4 separate regions of the Homo sapiens genome follow, and all the other regions are reported to be linked to region 1. The links are microRNA targets in miRTarBase. Many come from high-throughput screens and were not tested one by one. Region 1 holds a microRNA gene; each other region holds the end of a gene's coding sequence. Distances are between the middles of the regions.

Region 1 (3,000 bases):
TGTAACACCCCCCCCAGCAATGCCCCTTGGAGAGGACACAGCATCTAACCCTGTAACACCCGCCCCCCAGCAATGCCCCTTGGAGAGGACACAGCATCTATCCCTGTAACACCCCCCCAGCAATGCCCCTTGGAGAGGACACAGCGTCTATCCCTGTAACACCCGCCCCCAGCGATGCCCCTTGGAGAGGACACAGTGTCTATCCCTCTAACACCACCCGCCAGCAATGCCCCTTGAAGAGGACACAGGATCTGTCCCTCTAACACCCCCCCAGCAGTGCCCCTTGGAGAGGACACAGCATCTATCCCTGTAACACCCCCCCAGCAGTGCCCCTTGGAGAGGACACAGCATCTATCCCTGTAACACCCCCCCAGCAATGCCCCTTGGAGAGGACACAGCGTCTATCCCTGTAACACCCGCCCCCAGCGATGCCCCTTGGAGAGGACACAGTGTCTATCCCTCTAACACCACCCGCCAGCAATGCCCCTTGAAGAGGACACAGGATCTGTCCCTCTAACACCCCCCCAGCAGTGCCCCTTGGAGAGGACACAGCATCTATCCCTGTAACACCCCCCCAGCAGTGCCCCTTGGAGAGGACACAGCATCTATCCCTGTAACACCCGCCCCCAGCGATGCCCCTTGGAGAGGACACAGGATCTGTCCCTCTAACACCCCCCCCAGCAACGCCCCTTGGAGAGGACACGGCATCTATCCCTGTAACACCCCCCCCAGCAATGCCCCTTGAAGAGGACACAGCATCTATCCCTGTAACACCCCCCCAGCGATGCCCCTTGAAGAGGACACAGCATCTATCCTTGTAACACCCCCCCCCCAGCAACGCCCTTTGGAGAGGACACAGCATTTATCCCTATAACACCCCCCCGCCAGCAATGCCCCTTGGAGAGGACACAGGATCTATCCCTGAAACACGACCCCCAACAATGCCCCTTGGAGAGGACACAGCATCTATCCCCGTATCACCCCACCCAGCAAAGCCCCTTGGAGAGTCCCACAGCATGTATCCCTGTGATTTCCAGCACCCAGACCCTGGCACGTGGGCCCTCAAGAATTCCTAGATGGATGGTGAGCGAATGGGTGCAAAGGAGGGCACCCCAGGCTTAGAACAGACAAGGGCAGGCCCAAGCAAAACCAGGGGCTGTGGTGGGTCCAGAAAGCCCCAGAAGCTTTGAGGCCTGGGTCTGCAGGGACTCTGTGAGCTGGCAGCACCTGCCCCTCACCAGGCGAAGGGCACCTTGCGATGTTCCTGCATGACGTAATGGTCGTCATTCTGAGGTAGTGCTCGCATCAGCCCAAAGTCCCCGATCTTGACCAGGTCGCGGGTAGCCAACAGCAGATTGCGGGCAGCCAGGTCACGGTGAATAAAGCGCTTGGACTCCAGGTAGCCCATGCCCTCAGCCACCTGCACAGCGTAGCGGCTCAGAGTCCCCAGGAGGAAGTGGCCCTGGTGCTTACGTAGCCGGTCCAACAACGATCCCAGAGGTGCCAGCTCTGTCACCTGAGGCCACGGAGGAGGCAGGAGGAATGAGCTGGAGGACCCTGCCCCTTCTCAGCAGCCCACGCTGGGCCCCCAGTCCCCTTCCTGAAGGCTTTCCAGAGCCAGGCTGCACGCACCTTCCTGGCCTGCTGTCTGGGGACCTCTAGGAGTCCTGCAGTTTCTCAGGCCTCTCCCTCGAGGCAATTTGGGAAACTGATGCCTAGAGAGAAGGAGCCCAAAGAGGCAGTGGCTAGAAATTCCAAAACTCAGCTGGACGTGGTGGCTCACGCCTGTAATCCCAGCACTTTGGGAGGCCGAGGTGGGTGGATCATTTGAGGTCAGGAGTTTGAGACCAGCCTGGCCAACATGGTGAAACCCCGTCTCTACTAAAAATACAAAAATTAGCCAGGCATGGTAGCGCACGGCTGTAATCCCAGCTACTTGGAAGCCTGAGGCAGGAATATCGCGTGAACCCAGGAGGCCGAGGTTGCAGTGAGCCTAGATCATGCCATTGCACTCCAGCCTGGGCGACAAAGTGAGACTCCATCTCAAAATAAATAGATAAATAAAACATAAATTCCCCAAATTAAACTCAGTGGCCAGCCCCTCCCATGGGAGTAACTCTCTTGACACTGAGCACCAGCAAAATCCAGAGACAGACCCGGACTGGACCGCAGCAGACACAGCCCGTACCAGGCTGGGCCCCTGTGGACCCCTTTACTCCATCAGGTTGGGGGACCAAAGTAGGATCTAGGGCGCCTCTGACCTTAGGATGGAGAGAGGAACCGAACCACACATATGGGACCGGAGCCCTCTCCCTGCCCGCCCCCTCCCGCCCGCAGTACTCACCATCTTCATGGGCGGCGTGAGCACCACCCCGTAGAGGCGGATGAGGTTTCGGTGGTCGAGCGAGTGCATGGCATTGACCTCCCGGATGAAGTCGTCCATGGCTTCTGGCTGGCTCAGGACATCGGGCTTCAGGCACTTCACAGCCACACTCACCTGCCCAGAGCGGGATTTGCAAGGACTCAGGACTTGCCAGGTCCCAGACACGCGGAGCCAACCTGCTCCACCCTCCAACTCGGCTCAACGATCCCTGCCTGTGAGCTCCTCATCTGGGTGGGTAAGCATGTCACCAGTGCCTGGGCTTACGTGCTCTGCGTGAGGCCTGGCTGGAGAAGGGCAGACGGCTGGCCCTCAGGAGCCATCGTCGGCCACACCTCCCCTTCCTGGGGGAATGCCGGGCTTAAATACCAACCAAAAAGTAAGAGATAACCAGTATGATGAGAGAATATTCAAATGTTATAAAATGGAATTTTTTTTTTTGAGACAGTCTCGCTCTTGTCGCCCAGGCTGGAATGCAGTGACGTGATCTCAGCTCACTGCAACCTCTGCCTCCCGGGTTCAAGTGATTCTCCTGCCTCAGCCTCCTGAGTAGCTGGGATTACAGGCAGGTGCCACCACGCCTGGCTAATTTTGTATTTTTAGTAGAGATGGGGTTTCTC
Region 2 (3,000 bases), not on the chromosome of region 1:
TCCCATGACAACGGTCTGTTTCATGAACTGTGAATTGGGGAAACATCATCTACCTCACAGGTCTGCTGTGTGAGAAGAGCTCTGTGAAGCATGACGTGCCTGCAAATGTCGGGTGACATGTGGGGCCTCGACCGGAATCTACGTGGCTGAAGTCCTCAGCGGAGCCCAAGGGACTGCCAGGAAGTCAGCCAGGTGTCTACAAACCCTTACTGAGCACTAGGGGTGGGGCCTGAGCTAAGTTCCAGAAGGAACCTACAGAAAGGGGCAGATAGGGCCGCATCCCCGACACCTACAAGGAGTTAGAAGGCGGCCCACCCCTCAGTGAAGGGCATGGGCCCAGCTGCGATGGTGACATCAAAGCAGAGAGGCCTTAGGCCGGCCGCGGTGACTCTCACACCTGTAATCCCAGCACTTTGGGAGGCCAAGGGTGGCAGATCACGTGAGGTCAGGAGTTTGAGACCAGCCTGGCCAACATGGCGAAACCTGTGTCTACTAAAAATACAAAAATTAGCTGGGCATGGTGGCGTGCACCTGTAATCTCAGCTGCTCGGGAGGCTGAGGCAGGAGAATCACTTGAACCAGGGAGCAGAGGCTGCAGTGAGTTGAGATCACGCCACTGCACTCCAGCCTGGGCGACAGAGCAAGACTCCACACCCCACCAACCAAAAAAAAAGAAAAAAGCAGACAGGCCCCGAGGTGCTGGTGCAGTGCTGCCCAGGGCTTCAACTGGGGTCCATCCTGAGGCCTGAGGCTGGTGGGCATGCCCTGGCACATGCAGGGTGAATGTGGGGAGGGCACTGTCATGTTCCAAGGGAGTCAGGACCTGGCTCTCTATGGGATTTCTAGAGTCCACTTCTGATGCCTCTACAATCTCCAATTAGACCCAAGGGAGAAGGAAAGCAACTGGCACTGTACAATCTCTCGCCATCAACCCCAAAATGAGACCTCCAGCCAGCTTTTCTCACTTCTTGCAAACTTCTGACAGTGGTGTAATTCCTAATTTGCACCAGTTTTTGAACTCCGCTGTGTGATTTCTTTTTTGGAGATAGAGTCTCGCTCCGCTGCCTGGGCTGAAGTGCAGTGGTACGATCTCAGCTCACTGCAACCTCCGCCTCCTGGGTTCAAGCAATTTTCCTGCCTCAGCCTCCCAAGTAGCTGGGACTATAGGCACAGACTGCCATGCCCGGCTAATTTTCTGTATTTTAGTGGAGACGGGGTTTCACCGTGTTGCCAGGCCAGCCACAAACTCCTGAGCTCAGGCAATCCGCCCGCCTCGGCTTTCCATGTGATTTCAAATAGTTACTGTTCACTGAGTGCCTACCTAGCAAGGTGCAAGGCATTAACACATGTTATGAACACAGCAACCTACTCGCAGGCATGGGGGGTCACACAGTCCCAGGCATGTCCATCGTCTCATTCAATCCTCCCAACGTGACAAGGTGAGCAGAACCTCATCTCCATTCACATCTGAGAAAACAAGCTCCAAGAGGCAACAACCAGGTTCTATAATAGCAGGGCCAGGATGTGGAGTCTGACTGGCATAACGAGTCCAAGCTCCCCTTACCCCGCCCCACTCCTTTTTTTTTCTTTGAGACAGAGTCTCGCTCTGTCGCCCAGGCTGGAGTGCAGTGGCGCGATCTCAGCTTACTGCAAGCTCCGCCTCCCAGGTTCATGCCGGTCTTCTGCCTCAGCCTCCCAAGTAGCTAGGACTACAGATGCCCGCCACCATGCCTGGCTAATTTGTTTGTATTTTTAGTAGAGGCAGAGTTTCACTGTTAGCCAGGATGGTCTCGATCTCCTGACCTTGTGATCTGCCCGCCTCGGCCTCCCAAAGTGCTGGAATTATAGGTGGGAACCACCGCGCCCAGCATTTTTTTTTTTTTTTTTTGAGACGGAGTCTCGCTCTGTTGCCCAGGCTGGAGTGCAGTGGTGTAATCTCGGTTCAACACCACCTCCGCCTCCCAGGTTCAAGTGATTCTCCTGCTTCAGCCTCCCGAGTAGTTGAGACTACAGGCCTGCATCACCATGCCTGGCTAATTTTTGTATTTTTAGTAGAGACAGGGTTTCACTATGTTGGCCAGGCTGGTCTCGCTTTTTTTTTTTTTTTTTTTTGAGGTGGAGTCTCACTGTGTTGCCCAGGCTGGAGTGCAGTGGCACAGTCTCAGCTCACTGCAACCTCCGCCTCCCGGGTTCAAGTGATTCTCCTGCCTCAGCCTCCTGAGTAGCTGGGACTACAGGCGCCCACCACCACATCTGGCTAATTTTTGTATTTTTGTAGAGACAGGGATACACCATGTTGGCCAGGATGGTCTCGAATTCCTGACTTCAAGTGATCCACCCACCTCGGCCTCCCAAAGTGCTGGGATTACAGGCGTGAGCCTCTGCACCTGGCCCACCCTGCCCTACTCTTAATTGTTCTGAGTCAGTTTCCTCATCTACAAAGTCAAAGTGGTGAATGAGACCAGTGATTTTTAAACTTTTTTTAGCCACAGACCTTTTGTTCAAAGGAAACCTTAAATGGAGATGTAACACGCCAGCTGCTTAAAGACACAGGCTCTGCAAGAGTGAGTGTGGGAGTGGGAGGGGGCTACAGTCTCGCCAGCTGGGCCCCCTCGCTGCTTCTGCCCAGCTCTCCCTGCTGCAGCACTGGCACTGCAGGGAACCTTCCCAGCCACGGCGGGCTGAGCCTGGGCCTGTCAAGCCCTGACTGGACATCCTCAACAGAGAATGTTTATGGAGTCAGCACGAAGCCATGAGAAGGGGCAGCCCAGGGGCCAGCCACCCTCACAGGTCCTCCAGGGAGGGGCCCTCAGAGCTTCTCAGCAGGGACAGCAGGTTCAGAGCTGAGACACCGGGCACGTGGCCAGCACAGATCTGCAGCACGCGCACCAGGCGCTGCGCCATGGTGGCCCTAAAGCCTTCCACCTGCGGGGAGAGCAGAGAACAGCAGTGAGATAGAATGCTGGCCCTGCTCCCTTACCCAGAGCAGCTGCAGGGGCT
Region 3 (3,000 bases), 470 kb from region 1:
GCTGTAAGTAATTGGGGTCAGATTTATCTCCCCGTCCAAAGGTTTATATTGGCCCTTCCCCAAGGGCAAGCTTTGGTTATATGAAAGAAGAACTTACATTTAATAGCTGATCTAATATGATTAAAAAGAGAATGTTTTCTATTTAATTCACTAATATGCTCTTTCCTCTTTTTCCGTCTAATGGCTTTGTCTTTCTCTTGTTTTTATAGGCTTTGGTGAAGCACGTGCAGTCTAAAGGATACCCAAATGAACGTTTTGAACTTCTCACCAACTTTCCTCGAAGGAAATTATCTCATCTGGACTATGATATTACATTGCAAGAGGCAGGCCTTTGTCCTCAAGAGACTGTCTTTGTACAGGAAAGAAATTAACACCATGGCTTGACCTCTCTCAGCTTACCCCTTTTTTCCCTTTTCCTGTGAGATACATGTCACTAAGTATGCATTTTGGCTCATAGGACCACAGAGCCAAAGTTGGGCAAGCAAGTCACCTTCCTTCTCTTATTTCTTGATCTCTCCTATAATCAGTCTCTTTCTCCCCCTTTGTTTCTTTCTCCTCTTCTGTTTTCTCGCTCCCCACTCCGTACCCTTCTGCCTCCCCCTCCCCCCACACTTTTCTTTCTTACCTAATCTGGTGACCAAACTGAAGTGTAAGGATAAGACCTCTCCTAGTACTAGCAGCAGGAATTGTGTGTTCCAGTAAGTGGTCTCTTGCACGGCACTTTTTTGGGATCAAATGTTAACGTTACTCCCCAGACTCTTCGGGCAAAGGAATGGCTAGATTCAGAGTAAGAACAACCCTCCCTTTTTTGTAAGTCCCCGTGTTTAGCAGGGAGAAGAAATTCTCTAACATGGGTTTGGTTTTGTTGTGTTCTTCATGTGGAAATGTCGCTTAACAAAATATCCAGGCTTTTGTTTACGTGGAAAAAGCATCCCTTGTAATGATTGCTCATCATACTTAAAAACCTTTTTCAAAGGATTTTCATGTTCCCAGCTATAAGGACTATTTCCATGACATGTGTTATTGGCAGAATGAGTGTTAAATATGGAGCATATAGCATGGGGTGACTTTCATTGTCCTAACCTGAGACAGTTTTCCTTATTACTCTGTATTGATCCTGCTAGTCCAAGAATGGACATGAAGTGAACCTATCGTGGTGACTGGGATAGGAAGGTGCTTGCTATTTTTGCCAGCACAGCATATTAGTTCCTTTGGAGCCCTCCATTGTCTGAGTCTGCAGTGATCTGTAGGAAGGCAGCTGGTCAATAATCATGTAGTACAATGGCTTGGAATTGTAACCACTATGGTTATTGATTGTCCTGTGTTGTTTCAGGCATACTTAGGTATGTCCCTGGGGAAAAAGAAAACCATTCAGCTGAGAGTTGCTAACCATGTTCTTTTGGTTAGAAATAATGGTTCATTTTTTGCCCCTGGTTGGAATAGTCTCTAAAAGGCTCTGGTGACTGAATTGAACATGAGTCCGCATGCTGTTTTCTTTCAAAAGGTATCAAAACGGAAAGCCTCTCTAAGGGGAAGACCTTTCAACTCCATTCAGAAGACAACATTTAGTAAGGAGGATGGCGGAGGTTACTAGTAATTTTCAGATGTCTTGGGCTTTTTCTGCCAACAAAACCCAAAATCAAATTAGAGTTGGTGAAAGCTTTCTTCAGTGTTTTTAGAAGAGGCCATCTTGAATCTGTAGAATACCATTTACACATCAACTTCACCCTATGCTCATTTCGTATTTTGAGCTTAAATGGAGTCCTCTGAAGGGGGGGTAGTCGTGATTCTGGTGGCAAAACTAGAACTTTTAACTTGTAAAATGAAAAATATTAAATGGACCTTTTTGTCAGTTGAGGATTTAGATTGATTCTTTTATCTGAGGAGCGTATGTTCCTCAGATGTTGCGTAGAGACCTTTAGGTTTTCATCTACTTTAAGATTGCTCTCTTGGCAATTAGGGGATTTGGGAAAAGAAGAAAAAAAGATGCCATGTGTTGCTAGTACACAGTTATAGGATATGGTTTCTAATGGTTGAATTTTGAGGAACTCTCCCTAAAGAATGAGTTTTATATCTCCTCAAGGAAATCATGGAAAAATCTGTTTATTCTTCAGTGAGTCCTTTTGAATTAATGTTCTTAAATTTTTTTCTAAGTCTGTGTAAGTGCTTATGTATAAGTATATAATTGTATAAATATTTATAAATATATTTATATAATTACGGTTTCATTTCTACCTTGAGTCAAAGTTCTGTCTTTAGATTGGTGACTGAGTAATACTTACACTTTGGTGTTTTTTCTTAGGTTCTTGAGGCTTACTTAACTAGCAGCTTCTGATTTATTGAGTGAAAGATGGTTTTCATGTTAATTCCTCAGTTGCATCTCTGAACTTGGATAACATACTTGCCGTTTGAAAAATAGAGCTGTATACTGTCAAAGGTGCACTGGAGGGTAAAACATTTGTTGGTAGTAGACAAGCTCAGAAATCCAAAAATTCAGGGAGGGCACAGGGTAAGAAGAGAGGTTTGCTCAGCTTTGTGCTCTGATGGCACCCATCTGTACTCCAGCAAAGTCATAGCTGAAGCCCAAATCGCTCAAACGTGTGAAGTCAATCATTTTTCCTATAGGGCTCTGTTTCCTTTTCTTTACCTTCTAGCTTCTCTTGATAAAACAGTTGGGAGAACTGCCAACGTGTTCATCAGTGAGAGGGTGTGGTTCTTTCCGATATGTTCAGCACGTGCATATTCATTTATGAGAAACCAAAGTAACTTCTTCAACTCGGGTTACTGTGGGATGATTAAGTAGATATAAAGTGATTTAAAAGACAGCATGGTACTTTCACTCAGCTTAACATGCAGCTGGGATGTCTACAATACAAGATGTGGTGGGTTTTATTTTATTTTATTTTGAGGCAGGAGTGTAATTATCTTAGGGTTGATATAAAGGCCCATGGGAAGAGTTACGGATTGTACATGGGAAGAATCCATAAGGAGTATTGCCTT
Region 4 (3,000 bases), not on the chromosome of region 1:
CTAGAGAGGAGAATAGCCCCATAACGCTCTCACCCTCTCCCAACTGCTGCCTGGTCAACTGGGGAACCATTGCCTTCGGTGTGAATGGGGTGAAGAGCTCAGGGCCAGACAGGCAGAGCAGTGTGGTTCCACCAGAACTGTGGGCAAGGCCTTTGGCCTCCCTAATCTTCCTTCTCCCAGCGGGAAAACAGGGATGACACCACCTCCCTCAGCCAGTTTTCTTGTCATGATGTTTAGTAAGGTTTTCATAAGATGATATGTGTGCAAGAGATCAGTAATCTGCAAATGGGAAAGATGGCTGGTTCTGTGAGACCGGGCTGTTCCTGGTCCCAGCTAAGACATTGCAGTACCCACCTCCCAAAGGGAGTACACCCTTGCTTTGGGCCTGTGCCTGCCTGAGTCCTGATCCGTCTTCCTTCCTACCCTGCCCCCGGCCCCCTTCTCTTTCTGCAGACAAACTGGTCAAGTGTGAGGGCATCAGCCTGCTGGCTCAGAACACCTCGTGGCTGCTGCTGCTCCTGCTCTCCCTCTCCCTCCTCCAGGCCACGGATTTCATGTCCCTGTGACTGGTGGGGCCCATGGAGGAGACAGGAAGCCTCAAGTTCCAGTGCAGAGATCCTACTTCTCTGAGTCAGCTGACCCCCTCCCCCCAATCCCTCAAACCTTGAGGAGAAGTGGGGACCCCACCCCTCATCAGGAGTTCCAGTGCTGCATGCGATTATCTACCCACGTCCACGCGGCCACCTCACCCTCTCCGCACACCTCTGGCTGTCTTTTTGTACTTTTTGTTCCAGAGCTGCTTCTGTCTGGTTTATTTAGGTTTTATCCTTCCTTTTCTTTGAGAGTTCGTGAAGAGGGAAGCCAGGATTGGGGACCTGATGGAGAGTGAGAGCATGTGAGGGGTAGTGGGATGGTGGGGTACCAGCCACTGGAGGGGTCATCCTTGCCCATCGGGACCAGAAACCTGGGAGAGACTTGGATGAGGAGTGGTTGGGCTGTGCCTGGGCCTAGCACGGACATGGTCTGTCCTGACAGCACTCCTCGGCAGGCATGGCTGGTGCCTGAAGACCCCAGATGTGAGGGCACCACCAAGAATTTGTGGCCTACCTTGTGAGGGAGAGAACTGAGCATCTCCAGCATTCTCAGCCACAACCAAAAAAAAATAAAAAGGGCAGCCCTCCTTACCACTGTGGAAGTCCCTCAGAGGCCTTGGGGCATGACCCAGTGAAGATGCAGGTTTGACCAGGAAAGCAGCGCTAGTGGAGGGTTGGAGAAGGAGGTAAAGGATGAGGGTTCATCATCCCTCCCTGCCTAAGGAAGCTAAAAGCATGGCCCTGCTGCCCCTCCCTGCCTCCACCCACAGTGGAGAGGGCTACAAAGGAGGACAAGACCCTCTCAGGCTGTCCCAAGCTCCCAAGAGCTTCCAGAGCTCTGACCCACAGCCTCCAAGTCAGGTGGGGTGGAGTCCCAGAGCTGCACAGGGTTTGGCCCAAGTTTCTAAGGGAGGCACTTCCTCCCCTCGCCCATCAGTGCCAGCCCCTGCTGGCTGGTGCCTGAGCCCCTCAGACAGCCCCCTGCCCCGCAGGCCTGCCTTCTCAGGGACTTCTGCGGGGCCTGAGGCAAGCCATGGAGTGAGACCCAGGAGCCGGACACTTCTCAGGAAATGGCTTTTCCCAACCCCCAGCCCCCACCCGGTGGTTCTTCCTGTTCTGTGACTGTGTATAGTGCCACCACAGCTTATGGCATCTCATTGAGGACAAAGAAAACTGCACAATAAAACCAAGCCTCTGGAATCTGTCCTCGTGTCCACCTGGCCTTCGCTCCTCCAGCAGTGCCTGCCTGCCCCCGCTTCGCTGGGGTCTCCACGGGTGAGGCTGGGGAACGCCACCTCTTCCTCTTCCCTGACTTCTCCCCAACCACTTAGTAGCAACGCTACCCCAGGGGCTAATGACTGCACACTGGGCTTCTTTTCAGAATGACCCTAACGAGACACATTTGCCCAAATAAACGAACATCCCATGTCTGCTGACTCACCTGGCTGGAACAACATGCTTACTGCCAACATGTGGGCCGAACCACATGGCCCTGGCTCTGGAATGCACAAGTGGCTTTGCGTGAATCTGCGCTAAGCTATGCAGTCTGCTTTTTCTTCTCAGCTCTGGTAGTTCTTCAGAAATGTACCCTCCAGGCACATCCACTATTGCGAGGGTGAGCACGAAGGGTGGGAGATGCCCATGTCCTCAAGGCATCACTTCCTAAATCCAAAAGCATCGGCAGGAGAAAGGACTGGGGACAAATACTGTCCCTTCGGGAGTAGGGAGGGAACACTGAGGCCCATCCCTGGCTCCTTCCCTAAAAGTAGAGTAAAATGGAAGCGAGCATCCTGGGATTGGGGGCAAGAGGGGGACCGCAGGGTAGCTGTGGGTTCCAACTGCTGTCAGAGTCAGAGAGGCAGCCCCAAGCCAGCCTCCCTGCTTTGCCAGGGAATTTGGGGGAGGAAGGTGACAGCTGCCCAGAGGCTGACTCATCTGATATTTAGCACTGGGTAGGATGATTGTTTCTGAGCATTTTTCTTAAAGGCCTCAGATCTAAATTATGCCACCGGCTCCCACTCTTGCTACCTCCCGTCAACTTCTCTGCCTTGCCTTCCACCCCTGTAGTTACCATACACAGAGGAGGAGGAGCTGTCCTTGTCCCAGGTTGGGAGGCTGACAACCCCTTAGCAAGATGCTGCCAGCCCAGAGCTCTCCAAGGGGAGGAACACCCCTGAGACTCAGGCCCCTCTCCTTCAGCCCTGCTTGGGCTGCAAGCGCCGTGCCAAGGAAAGGCATCTTGGTGAGAAGAGCTGCTGTGGGGGAAGGGAGATCAAATGCCAGAGAAATGTGGGGTGCCCCACCCTCAGGATAGTAAAAGAGTATGGAGGTATTTCTGGAAGGAAATGAGCGGCACTGTGTGAAGCCTCGCACCTGTGTGACACTTCCTATGGGGTCTTTGTCACAC

Evidence for each region. Region 1 holds the annotated microRNA hsa-miR-6829-3p (UGCCUCCUCCGUGGCCUCAG, at 1,517-1,536, opposite strand). A microRNA usually pairs through its seed, bases 2 to 8, with sites in the 3' UTR of a target mRNA and lowers its output. Matches are read on the target gene's strand: a 7mer-m8 pairs with bases 2 to 8, a 7mer-A1 pairs with bases 2 to 7 and ends in A, and an 8mer does both.
Region 2: miRTarBase lists CENPM as a target of hsa-miR-6829-3p. The part of its 3' UTR that is shown has no 7-base or 8-base seed match.
Region 3: the mRNA of UBXN7 is a reported target of hsa-miR-6829-3p. The part of its 3' UTR that is shown has no 7-base or 8-base seed match.
Region 4: miRTarBase lists THY1 as a target of hsa-miR-6829-3p. Seed matches in the 3' UTR shown: 7mer-A1 at 1,503-1,509.

Annotation. Positions count from the first base shown.
Region 1 is chr3:195,880,813-195,883,812 of GRCh38, forward strand. It overlaps MIR6829 (microRNA 6829), which reads right to left and starts at 1,583; the gene lies at 1,517-1,583. It overlaps TNK2 (tyrosine kinase non receptor 2), which reads right to left. Exons shown (of 16, transcript NM_001382273.1): 5 at 2,345-2,497; 6 at 1,239-1,516. RefSeq lists an enhancer at 2,474-2,974.
Region 2 is chr22:41,936,272-41,939,271 of GRCh38, forward strand. CENPM (centromere protein M) reads right to left here. Exons shown (of 6, transcript NM_024053.5): 6 at 2,466-2,925. The coding sequence ends at 2,785. Among named protein-coding and RNA genes, the nearest start is that of CENPM, 9.4 kb to the right of the region's middle. RefSeq lists enhancers at 1-619, 1-240, 281-420, 461-520.
Region 3 is chr3:196,354,056-196,357,055 of GRCh38, reverse strand. UBXN7 (UBX domain protein 7) reads left to right here. Exons shown (of 11, transcript NM_015562.2): 11 at 210-3,000. The coding sequence ends at 371. Among named protein-coding and RNA genes, the nearest start is that of TM4SF19-DYNLT2B, 17 kb to the right of the region's middle.
Region 4 is chr11:119,416,974-119,419,973 of GRCh38, reverse strand. THY1 (Thy-1 cell surface antigen) reads left to right here. Exons shown (of 4, transcript NM_006288.5): 4 at 454-3,000. The coding sequence ends at 566. All of the region lies in intron 2 of USP2-AS1 (USP2 antisense RNA 1), which reads right to left. Among named protein-coding and RNA genes, the nearest start is that of THY1, 4.7 kb to the left of the region's middle. RefSeq lists an enhancer at 1-323.